Linked DNA regions of Homo sapiens: region 1 is linked to region 2. Evidence: fine-mapped expression QTL. A gene starts in region 2. The other region holds a variant in brackets. All regions are shown on one strand. Distances are between the middles of the regions. Region 1 holds the start of LINC02231 (long intergenic non-protein coding RNA 2231). Region 2 holds the start of WIF1 (Wnt inhibitory factor 1).

What was found.
Region 1: its variant is fine-mapped to the expression of WIF1 in nasal epithelium (TOPMed, PIP above 0.99).

The regions. Positions count from the first base shown.
Region 1 is chr12:64,990,436-64,995,816 of GRCh38, forward strand. It overlaps LINC02231 (long intergenic non-protein coding RNA 2231), which reads right to left and starts at 1,856. Exons shown (of 4, transcript NR_146276.1): 1 at 1,842-1,856. It overlaps LOC107984522 (a long non-coding RNA gene), which reads left to right. Exons shown (of 2, transcript XR_001749177.2): 2 at 1-211. RefSeq lists an enhancer at 2,193-2,719. The variant G/A (reference allele first, on the strand shown) is at 2,577.
Region 2 is chr12:65,118,489-65,123,869 of GRCh38, forward strand. It overlaps WIF1 (Wnt inhibitory factor 1), which reads right to left and starts at 2,817. Exons shown (of 10, transcript NM_007191.5): 1 at 2,556-2,817; 2 at 1,929-2,068. The coding sequence starts at 2,703. RefSeq lists a silencer at 2,978-3,137.

The sequences.
Region 1 (5,381 bases), 130 kb before region 2:
CCTGTCCTGTTTTGTTCCGATCTAATTACCAGTGCATGCAACCCCCAGTCATGTACCCCTGGCTTGCTCAATCGATCACAACCCTCTCAAGTGGACCCCCTTAGAGTTGTGAGCCCTTAAAAGGGGCAGGAATTGCTCACTCAGGGAGCTCAGCTCTTGAGACAGGAGTCTTGCCAATGCTCCCGGCCGAATAAACTGCTTCCTTCTTTAACTCGGTGTCTGAGGGGTTTTGTCTGCATCTTGTCCTGCTACACCTATATTGCCTGAACTTTGATTTGGGTCAAATTGATTTGGTTGGCAGAGGCTCCTGTTAGAGAGTACACCTCAGGCTTTTGGAATTTTTGGTGTTGTCCTTCTGATAGTCATCATAGTAGCTCCCCTGGTGTACCATATCCTCTCAAGTCTTAAATATTTGTATGCAGCCATCCACTGAGTGTTGAGTGGTCTCACTTTGACTTGATCATCAAGAACATAAAGAATTATTCAACTGGTGTGATGTCATGACTTGTGAATTTCATGCTGAGACCAAATAAGTTTGTTTATGATGGTGACAGAGAGTGGTATCAATGCCCCAGGTTTTGAGAGGTGGCATTGTTAAACTAAATTTGGGGGGATTGTTAAACTAAATTTGACCTGAGAATGCCTCCATACCTGAGTCCTTACTAATGAAATGCAATGTAACTTAGTACTCACACTAACTGAAAACCTGGCTTAGGCATATACTTTTGTCACAAATGAGTCACAGCCAATCACAGCAGCTGAGCTTCAGTCAGTCACAGGCAGCCAACTCAAAACACCATGTTCACATAAAGCAAATGCTGAATAAGGCAAACACCAGCTGTAATCAATGGAGCTCTGTACCTCACTTCCATCTTCTGTTCATAAATGCTATCTGACCACATTGCAGGCCAAAGTTTTTCTGAACTTGTTCTAGTTTTGAGGGCTGCCCAATTCGTGAATTGTTCTTTGTTCAATTAGACCCTGTTAAATTTAATTTGTCTGAAGTTTTCCTTTTAGCAACTGAAGCATGCAGCAGGTCTGACATCATTAGGCAATTGCAATTCTCTTTCCTGCAGAGCTAAGACTCTGCCTCCTGCCTGATTCTCAAAGCAGAGCTCCAGGGAGCAGCAACACTAATTGTACAGGGCTGGCACACTAGAGAAAACCGATTTGCTACCCCAGCTTTAGGGCTTTTTCTAACTTCCCTCCAAAAGGAAATATACTAGTGCCCTGCTCACTCCCTGAGGTACTGTCTTCGCTAAGGTATGATGCTTGTTCATGGATTAATGTGTTTTCCCTCCAGGTATATGTTTCTATTTAAAATGCAGAGAGTGTTTTAATGTGGAGGAATGACCCTAATGATAGAAGTTTTAATAAGTCAAATGAGCGGAAAGGCAAGACAATATAACAAAAAGAGCACCAGTTTTGGCATAGCAGGCACTCAATAAATGTAAGTTCCACTTCTTTCCTTGTGCTGAGTGTCTCCTAATTACCTAGCACTATGGTAAATGCCCAAGAAACTCTAAGATATAAACTTTTGGTTTAAGAAGGCTTTATTTGTACTGATGAGATGATATGAGAAAATACTTTCTTTTTCTCTAAATACTATTACATTGTAGGCAGCAGACTGGCCAATACAATTAATTAAACTTTAGAAAGAAAAGATAAAGCCAGTCATCTGCTATGTAGTCTATGCAGTCCCAAAACAGCAGCTGAGTTTTTTTCACGGAACTCTTCTGGGTATTGGAAGGCAGACTAAATACTTTACTTGCTGCCCAGCAACACGAAGATGGAAAACACATCTTTTGATTAATTAAAAGCAAAAGGTTGGAACTACTTACCTTTCCATTCTTTAATTAACAAAGCCCACAGGCCACATGAGGAAGTAATAACACTCATTATGTTGTGATGAAGGACTGTGATGATGAGTTAAGTCAGATGGGACTCCAGGCACGATTCCCTTCAAGGCTTCCCCAAGACGTGCCCCGAATGTAGACAGATCCTTACTTGTTGAAGAACTGTATCTCACCAGTGCTGGCATATGCTTCTTCAGAGAGTGCATTCCCTTTTGCAAGGGAAAGAAAAGTCCTTAAAACAAAAGGTTATATTTTAATTAAGCCTAGGCATCCTTTCTGCAATTTCCTTTGTTGAAAGAATACCTCCTTTGATTTGTATCTGTTGGTGTTAGTCTTTGGAATAAAAAGAGATTGATCCCTTCCAGGCAGAACTGTCCCAACTGAATGATCAAAAGCCTTGCTAGCTGACATACAAACCAACAAATTATTTTCTTTTTCTCCCTTAAATCTCCCAGGAAGCACCTTTTGAAAGATAGTCTTCATTCCCCAGGCTTTGCTCACCATCCTTCATGCCAGTGGGTGGTCTCAAGGAATTTGAGGAAATGGCAAACACTCATTCTACCTGCAGGTGGAAGCCTGACCTCCTGCCTTTCAACTTCCTCCAGAATCCTTGGAGGGTTTTTTCTTTTCTTGTCACCAAGGCACCGCTGAAATCTGTTAGTCAAATAGCTTTCTACCCATGAGGAAAGTGAGCTTTGATATGTATTTGCTTCTCATTCA[G/A]CTATAGCAGCACCAGTTAAGATGCTGCCACCACATGAATGTAAACGAAAAATAAAACAGCAGGCTCAGTTTTCATTCTAAAGTCCACTCTCTGATGGGAATAAGAAATAACTCAATAGCATTAGTATGGAACATTGGGTGTCAGGATTTTTGCCTTCATTTCCCATCTTTTTTTTGGAAATTAAACTCAGTACCTCTATTATCTTTAAGAATCAGGGATAGTGATGATATTTTTCCCCCAAGAAAGAAAATAAGGGCCTATAAAAATGCTCTTTTTAATGCTCTCAAGGGGAAATGCTGAATTGAGAAGCAATTGGGTTTTCTAGAAGTCCAACAAACGTACTTTTTAAAGTGGTTCTCTGATGGAATACCTATAGAAAAACCTTGCTTCTTCATGTGAAGGTTTGCATTCACCAAGTCTGATTGTGTAATAGAGGTTACCCTTTTTAAATTAAATGAATTCTAAACAAAGTTTTACTTACATTTCCATTTTTGCTTTTTAAGAATGGAGTGATTGAGTCTTTTTAGGAAATGTATACACTTTGTGGCTAACTTTGCATGCCACATTGCAGCATGCTGTAAGTTTTATAGCTCTTGAAATACCATGTTAGCAGTAGGAATGCTGATGCTTCTATGATTACAGTGGTCCAACTGCAATGCTATAATCTCTGTCACTGAAAAATCTCATGCTGCTAAAACCTTGAAGACGATCTGAATTGTAGATGGTTTTAAAACTAGCTGTAGGCAATCCCATTACTGGGCATATACCCAAAGGAATATAAATCATTCTATTATAGAGATACATGCACACATATGTTCATTGCAGCATTATTCACAATAGCAAAGACATGGAATCAACCCAAATGCCCATCAATGATAGACTGGATAAAGAAAATGGGGTACATATACACCATGGAATACTAAGCAGGCATAAAAGGAATGAGATCATGTTGTTTGCAGGGACATGGATGGAGCTGGAAGCCACTATCCTCAGCAAACTCACAAAGGAACAGAAAACCAAATACTATGTGTTGTCATTTATAAGTGGGAGCTGAACAATGAGAACACATGGACACATGGGGGAAACAACATACACTGGGGCCTGTCAGGGGAGGGGTGTGTGGGGAGGGAAAGCCTTGAGAAGAATAGCTAATACATATTGGGCTTAATACCTGGGTGATGGTAAGGGAGAAAACCACCCCTCATATTGTCTTATGCCCAGTTTCTGCCTCCAAAGAAATAAGAAGTAAAAACTAAAAGGCAGAAATGGAATCCACAGGCAGACAGCCCAGCACTGCGCCCTGGGCCTGGTAGTCAAAAATCAACCCCTGACCTAACTGCTTGTGTTATCTATAGATTTCAGACATTGTATGGAAAAGCATCATGAAAATCCCTGTCCTGTTCTGTTCCTTTCTGATTACTGGTGCATACAGCCCCCAGTCACGTACTCCCTGCTTGCTCAATCGATCACGACCCTCTCATGCAGACCCTCTTAGAGTTGTAAGCCCTTAAAAGGGACAGGAATTGCTCACTCAGGGAGCTCGGTTTTTGAGACGTGAGTCCACCGATTCTCCCAGCTGAATAAAGCCCTTCCTTCTTTAACTCGGTGTCTGAGGGGTTTTGTCTGCGGCTCATCCTGCTACAATGGGATGATCTGTGCAGTGAATTGCTGTGGCACACATTTACCTATGTAACAAACCTGCATATCCTGCCTATGTGCCCTGGAACTGAAAATAAAAGTCGATTAAAAAAAAAAAACTAGCTATAGGAAACCATCCCAAATTCAATGGTGTCAATGCCTGTTTTCCTCAACTTGGTTTAGCTGCAGGTATGGAAACCTTCCAGATATACTTTCTGCTTCTTTTAGATCTTGAGACACTCTGGTAGGATGTGAGGAGCACTATCTCAGGCAAGAGGCAGGTGGGATCTGAAACTTGAAATCCCTCTTTAAATCTAGTATCTTTCGTGCGTAATGTGAGCCTGGGCTGACGCGCCCCAATACAAGTCACCACTAAGTCTTTCCTGGTTTATTGGTATTACCTTCTATTAAATCTTCCCAAATTTACTCCGACACTCCTCCAGTTCATTTTCACACAACATGCAGAGTGATCTTTCCAAAATGGCAACCTGATTATGTCTTCTTGTGAGAAGCATATGCCAAGACAGGATTAGATATGCAAGGAATTTGGTGGGGAGGGAGGAGAGGGAGCTGAAGGAGATGAGGGAAGACTTTACTCAGAGATGCTGGTCGGACCCCTGTGAGGGAGAGAGGGAAGGAAGGAAGGAAGATTGGATAGGAAGAGTCTCAAGCTGCAGTGTAGTTCTAAAAATGTTTCATGTTCCTAATTCTAGTTTCATCTGAAATCTCTCCATCAGCTTCCGAGCTCCAGCTTTGTTGGTGATCTTTCAATTCTTGGAACTCTCCACACTCCATCTGACCCTAGGGTCTTTTCACGTCTTTTTTTTTTTTTTTTTTTTCTGAGATGGAGCCTTGCTCTGTCACCTAGGCTGGAGTGCAGTGGCACAATCTTGGCTCACTGCTACCTCCACCTCCTGGGTTTGAGCGATTCTCCTGCCTCTCAGTCTCTGAGTAGCTGGGATTACAGGCATGTGCCACCACACCTGGCTAATTTTTGTATTTTTAGTAGAGATGGGGTTTCACCATGTTGGCCAGGCTGGTCTTGAACTCCTGACCTCAGATGATCTGTGCTCCTCAGCCTCCCAAAGTGCTGGGATTACAGGCATGAGCCATCTTATTTTATTTGACTGGAATACTTTCCTCTTCAACTCTCAAAGACAAATAAC
Region 2 (5,381 bases):
TTTTATGTAGTTAGTTGTGGTAACCTATTCAAAGCCGAATGAGTAGAGAGAGAAAGGTAGCTTAATTGAGGTGCTAACATTGTCCTGCATCATTAGATCATCCACATAGGTGAGCAACACTTAAGCAGGAGAAAAAAATATTACAAACTTCCTCTTCATGCCAGTTCCACTCTCCTCCCTAATTCCCTGCAGGACATATTCCTGAGATTGTATGACATGTCAGTCCATTTTGTACTCACCAGTATGCCAATATTTGCAAACATGCATTATACTGTTAAGCAATAGGATAAAAGCAACATGGAATTTAAGCCTTTGCTTCAAATTCTATTCTTCAACAGACAAACATAAGTGAGAGAGAAAGAGATAGAGAGAGGAGGGAGGGAGAGGGGGAGAGAGAGAGAGTGCGCACGAGAGAGCTATTGGCACTTTCTGCTTTTCCTACAGTTAACCAGTTACCAAACCCTTTCAGATGGAAGGGTGCAGTTCAAACTGCCTTTTATTGATTCTTACGAACCCATAAAGGTATAGGTTAAAAAATGTCTTTTCAAAAATATAGAATTAATTGGCCACTTAGTTAATGACCATCTGATGAGCGGTCAGCCATAAGTAAACAGATTCAGCTGAAAAGGAGAAAATGAAAGGCCATTCGTTGGTTTATTACTGATTTCACAATATTCCCAACTTAATTGTTTATGAAGTATCTATGAAGAGGGACTTGTAGGGAGAAAAGGAATAATCTCCCTATAGAGCAATGGAAACCTCGATGAACCTATCTGCAAAATGGGGGTATTAACAATAGATGACTTTCCTGTTATAAACCTCAGTGAATCCAAAACCTCAATTTTTTTTAACCACATAGCAATGGAAGTGTTGAAGGTTCTAGATTTGATCTATTTCAGAAGAAGAAGAAAAAGAGAACAGACTTGAAGGGAAAAAGACAGCTAAAAAGGTCATGTCTATACCACAACAGGTAATTAGAGGGAAACAAAGTGGTTTCTCAATTCAAAATAGTTATTTTTTATAAAGTGTTTTCGGTATCACATTCTTCTTGAAAATAATCATTTAAGGAACTTTAGAATAAAAGACCGAAAAATGTGGTTTTAATTATAATTATAATGATTTTCATAGTAGACACATTCTACCAACTAATAAGCTGAAGAATGCATTGCTTACCATTTGTCCTCTAGAGTAAATTCTCCAATTGTACAAAAGAAATTAAATTTACATAAGCATTTTATTCTTTCTTTCTAAAATTAGAAGCCATAAAAATGTACAAAAGGTAACATATAAAAGATGCTAATGTGCTAAGGAATAAAAGGAATGCTTCTTCATAAAAAATAGATTCCAGTTTTCTTTTCCATATGAAAGCATTTAAAATGGTAACTTGAAAACATAGGCTGCAATATTTTATAACGTTCTTACATGACACCTTTTGGGTCTAACTTCTACCAGAAATATGCAACATTCACGTTCCAGTGAATAACATTCAACATACTGACTTTTTAAAAGTGCACAATGTCAAAAATACTTACAAACTTTAAAATTTGTTGTAAAGTATGAAGAATGTCACAAGTGATTAGAAACTACTATGCAAAAAGAGTCCTTTAAGTATGTTAAATTTTAATGTCAATGATCACAGAAACACAGTGATGTTGGTATTGGAGGTCTTTATATTTCCAGCAGCCTCAGGACACTGAGTCTTATCAAAATAATGGGCTTAGGCACAAGGCTTGTTCTTTTCTTTTGAAGATCATTAATTGATATGGCAACTTGAAATAAATGGAAATTAATTCTTTATTTGCTTTGGCAATCAGATGAGAAATTTCTCTTAATAACTGTAAAATGTACCAGGCTACACACTATACAGTACTATTTCCACCTGCCATAAGGCAGTGGAAATATTAAAGGGTAATTTTCTCAGAACTTACCTGCCCTGCAGCTTGCCAGGTAAAATTCATGGAATGGATATTGACAGGAATAGCTGGCATTCTCTGTTGTGCTTTTCTGAAATCATGTGTAAAAGGTGCCATTTTCCCCTCTGAAACAATCAGGATATCTTCTTCAAATCCTGGTTTTTAAAATAATAAAACGATCAAACCAGGTAGACTTGAAATCATCTAAATCAGAAGTTTCAAGCAAAAAGAAAACCAAAGAATTAGTGTGGGTCATTTCTGTTCACAAGCATCTGCCTTCAGTACCATCAACGCTACTAAGATTAATTTTTCTCTGTGGATGATGAGAATGATGCCAACAGACCCATGCTTTCAGGGAAAAGGGATGGACATGGAGTTAACCGACGCAAAAAAATGCCGGGTGCACCTAAAAACGCAGGGCTATAAAAATTAACAACAGCATGATCAGAACACTAGATCAGCTTTGGTTTCTTAAAAGAGAAGTTTATAAGCTTTCAGATGGAAAATATCTAATTAAAAGAGGGGAACACTCTTTTGTGGAAATTAAGTTTTAAAACACAAGAAACGCAGGTATCCCTCTTTCTTGAAGAGTGGAGAGAGGAGGACATAGGCAGGGGAAGGCGCTGGAGGCGGGGGCCTTACCTATGAGTACTCTTGCCTGGTGAGCATCGATCCATAGGTACAGGCTCTCCTCCTGCGGCGGCCCGGCCTCCGCCCGCAGTGCCAGCAGGCACAGGAGGATGCTCCAGAGCCAGAGCGCGGCGGCAGGGAAGGCGCTCCTCCGGGCCATGCTGCTCAGGACCTCCTCGCTGCCGGGAAAACTCCTCGTGCCGCACCTACGCAACCTGGCGCCGTCAGATACTCTGCTGCGCTGCAGCTCCCTCAGCCAGGGCTGTTCCCGTTTAGACGGCTGGGCGCGTCGCCTCCCGGCCTGGGTGCCAAGGAGCCTGCGAGAGCAGGAGGAGGGGGCAGGCAGGACGCGGGAGGAGGAGGGGGGGACCAGCGGGCGCGAGTCGCGCAAGAAGATGGGGCGCGGGCGGGAGTGGGGGCGGCAGAGACGTAAGACTGGCAAAGCTGGCGAGGCCAGCAGTCAGCGGGGCAAATAGAGCGAGAACAGAAGAGCGGGAAGGGCTGGCGCGAGCGAGGTGCGAGCGAGGAGTGGGGCCCGCGAGGCCTGGGCGGCCGCCACTTGGGGGCGCTGTGGGGCCCCCCCGGGGGCGGGGCCGCGAGGGACCCCCGAGGCTGCATTCACAGTGCGGTGCGCCCAGTGGAGCGCCCGCGAAGTGGGCGTGTAGGGCTGGCGGACCCGGAGAAGGGCACTCAGAGACCCCTGGGACATCACTCGCCACCTCCTCGGGCCAAGGGAGGCTTCGGGGGAGGGAAATGGGGAGAGCAGACAACGCTGGGCTTGACTGAGTGCTGATGATGGTGATGGTGATGGTGATGATGATGATGATGATGATGATGAGGTGATGACTCCTGTTCCTCCTCCGGCGCTCACTGAAGGCGCAAATTGCCCTTCGTCTCCCTTTCAGCCAGTAGGATTCCTCTCTCCGCCAACCCTATGCGCTCCGTTCTGCGATAGGCTGGCACTTTGCGCGCTCCCAAGCAGTTAAAACTCGAGGCTCGACTGTCCGATGGTGCCGATGGCAGGCGCTGGCCTTGGCTCGAGGCGCAGGGCGTCCAGCTGGTACTTGCCCGACACCCAGCATTTGGGGATTCCCGTCTGTCTCCCTGATAACCCGGCAGTGCCCGGAAGAGTGCCCTGGGCCCTGGACGATAGCTGTACCTGACCCTCCGGGGTAGGGCTCCTCTAACATCGTGGATATCTTCACGTTTGCTGATATTTTTTAAAAGTTGCTGAATTCGGCCGGGCGCGATGGCTCACGCCTGTAATCCCTGCACTTTGGGAGGCCAAGGCGGGCGGATCACCTGAGGTCAGGAGTTCGAGACCAGCTTGGCCAGCGTGGTGAAACCCCGTCTCTACTAAAAATGCAAAAATTAGCTGGGCATGGTGGCGGGGGCCTGTAGTCCTAGCTACCCGGGAGGCTGAGGCAGGAGAATCACTTGAACCGGGAGGCGGAGGTTGCATTAAGCCAAGATCGTGGCACTGCACTCCAGCCTGGGCGATAGAGCGAGACTCCGTCTCAAAAAATATATAAATAAATAAATAAAATAATTTTTTAAAAGTTGCCGAATTCACAGGTGCGTGGGGGCAAAACCAAGGCTCTGGCCTCGTCTGTGAGAAGCATGCTTGGCCGGCAGTGGGCTGCAGCATAACCTATCCACCTGGCCCAGCAGAAAGAACTGATTTTTGCCTCCTGCCTAATTCCTCGGATGCACAAAGAAAACGGAAGCAAAAGGGTTTTGTTTTGTTTTGTTTTTAATTAAAAAACTTAGCCTTCGGACTCATAAAAGGTTCATTTACTTGTGTTTGTTCTTTAGTACCCGAAGCTGTGACAAATGCCTCAAGGATCAAATGTCTGGGGCTGGGCGTGGTGTTTCAATCAGTCCTTTATAGAGTAGCAGATGCCTCAAGAGGGAAAAACAAACAGAAACAACAGAAGAGATGGTGGACATGTGCAGGCATCAAGTTAAATCAGTGTTAGGTTCTGAGAATATAGATTTCCAATGAGGAAATATTTGCAGCTATACAACCAACCAATAGAAAAAAAAAAAAGGAAAAAAGGAATTAGACAAGAAGTCTATGACTGATTTGAACTTGCAGTGTCTTAATTTTTAAAGTACTTTTATTTTAAGTGCTTACTTAATCCTCACAACTCTTAAGTAGGTACTACTATTATTCTTATTTTACTGACGAGGAAAGAGGGCTCAAAAAGTCCAGTAAGTTGACTGTGGATATCCAGCTGGTAAATGAGAGTAAGGGTTCAAATCCCAGACACTCTGATTTCAAAGCCCATTCTCTTAGTAACTTATACCTCATACTGATAAATAAATCATAATTAAGTCTATTTGCATCCAAAGCTTCACAGTGATTCTTCCTTTACAATAAAAATATTTACCTGTTTCCCAACATTGCATTATTTTTTATTTCTATGAATATTCATGTATATAATGTATGAACATTAGGCTACTTTTAAAACACTTTAATGTTATAATGCCAGTGTCACCCAGGTAAAGATAATAATTTCACAGCACAATAGGCATTTTCTTTAACTCGGAGCGAGTGGTTTTAACATTTTTTTCTAGTTCTGCGCAAACCTCTATGGCTCTTGGTGCAAGGACGCCCTCTACAGGTTTTCCTAATCAAATACTAATTGAGAAATATTCATAAAATTTATTTTTTGGTGCAAGAAAAAGAGGAACTAAATTCTCTCCTAACTCGGTTTCCTCTGAGTGAGGTTCTTCTGCAGCAGTTGAATTTGGTGTTGATAACAATGGTAATCTATCTTGCTATAAGGACGTTTTTTTTCTTCCAGAATGGTTGTTTTCTGTTTACTTCTCTCC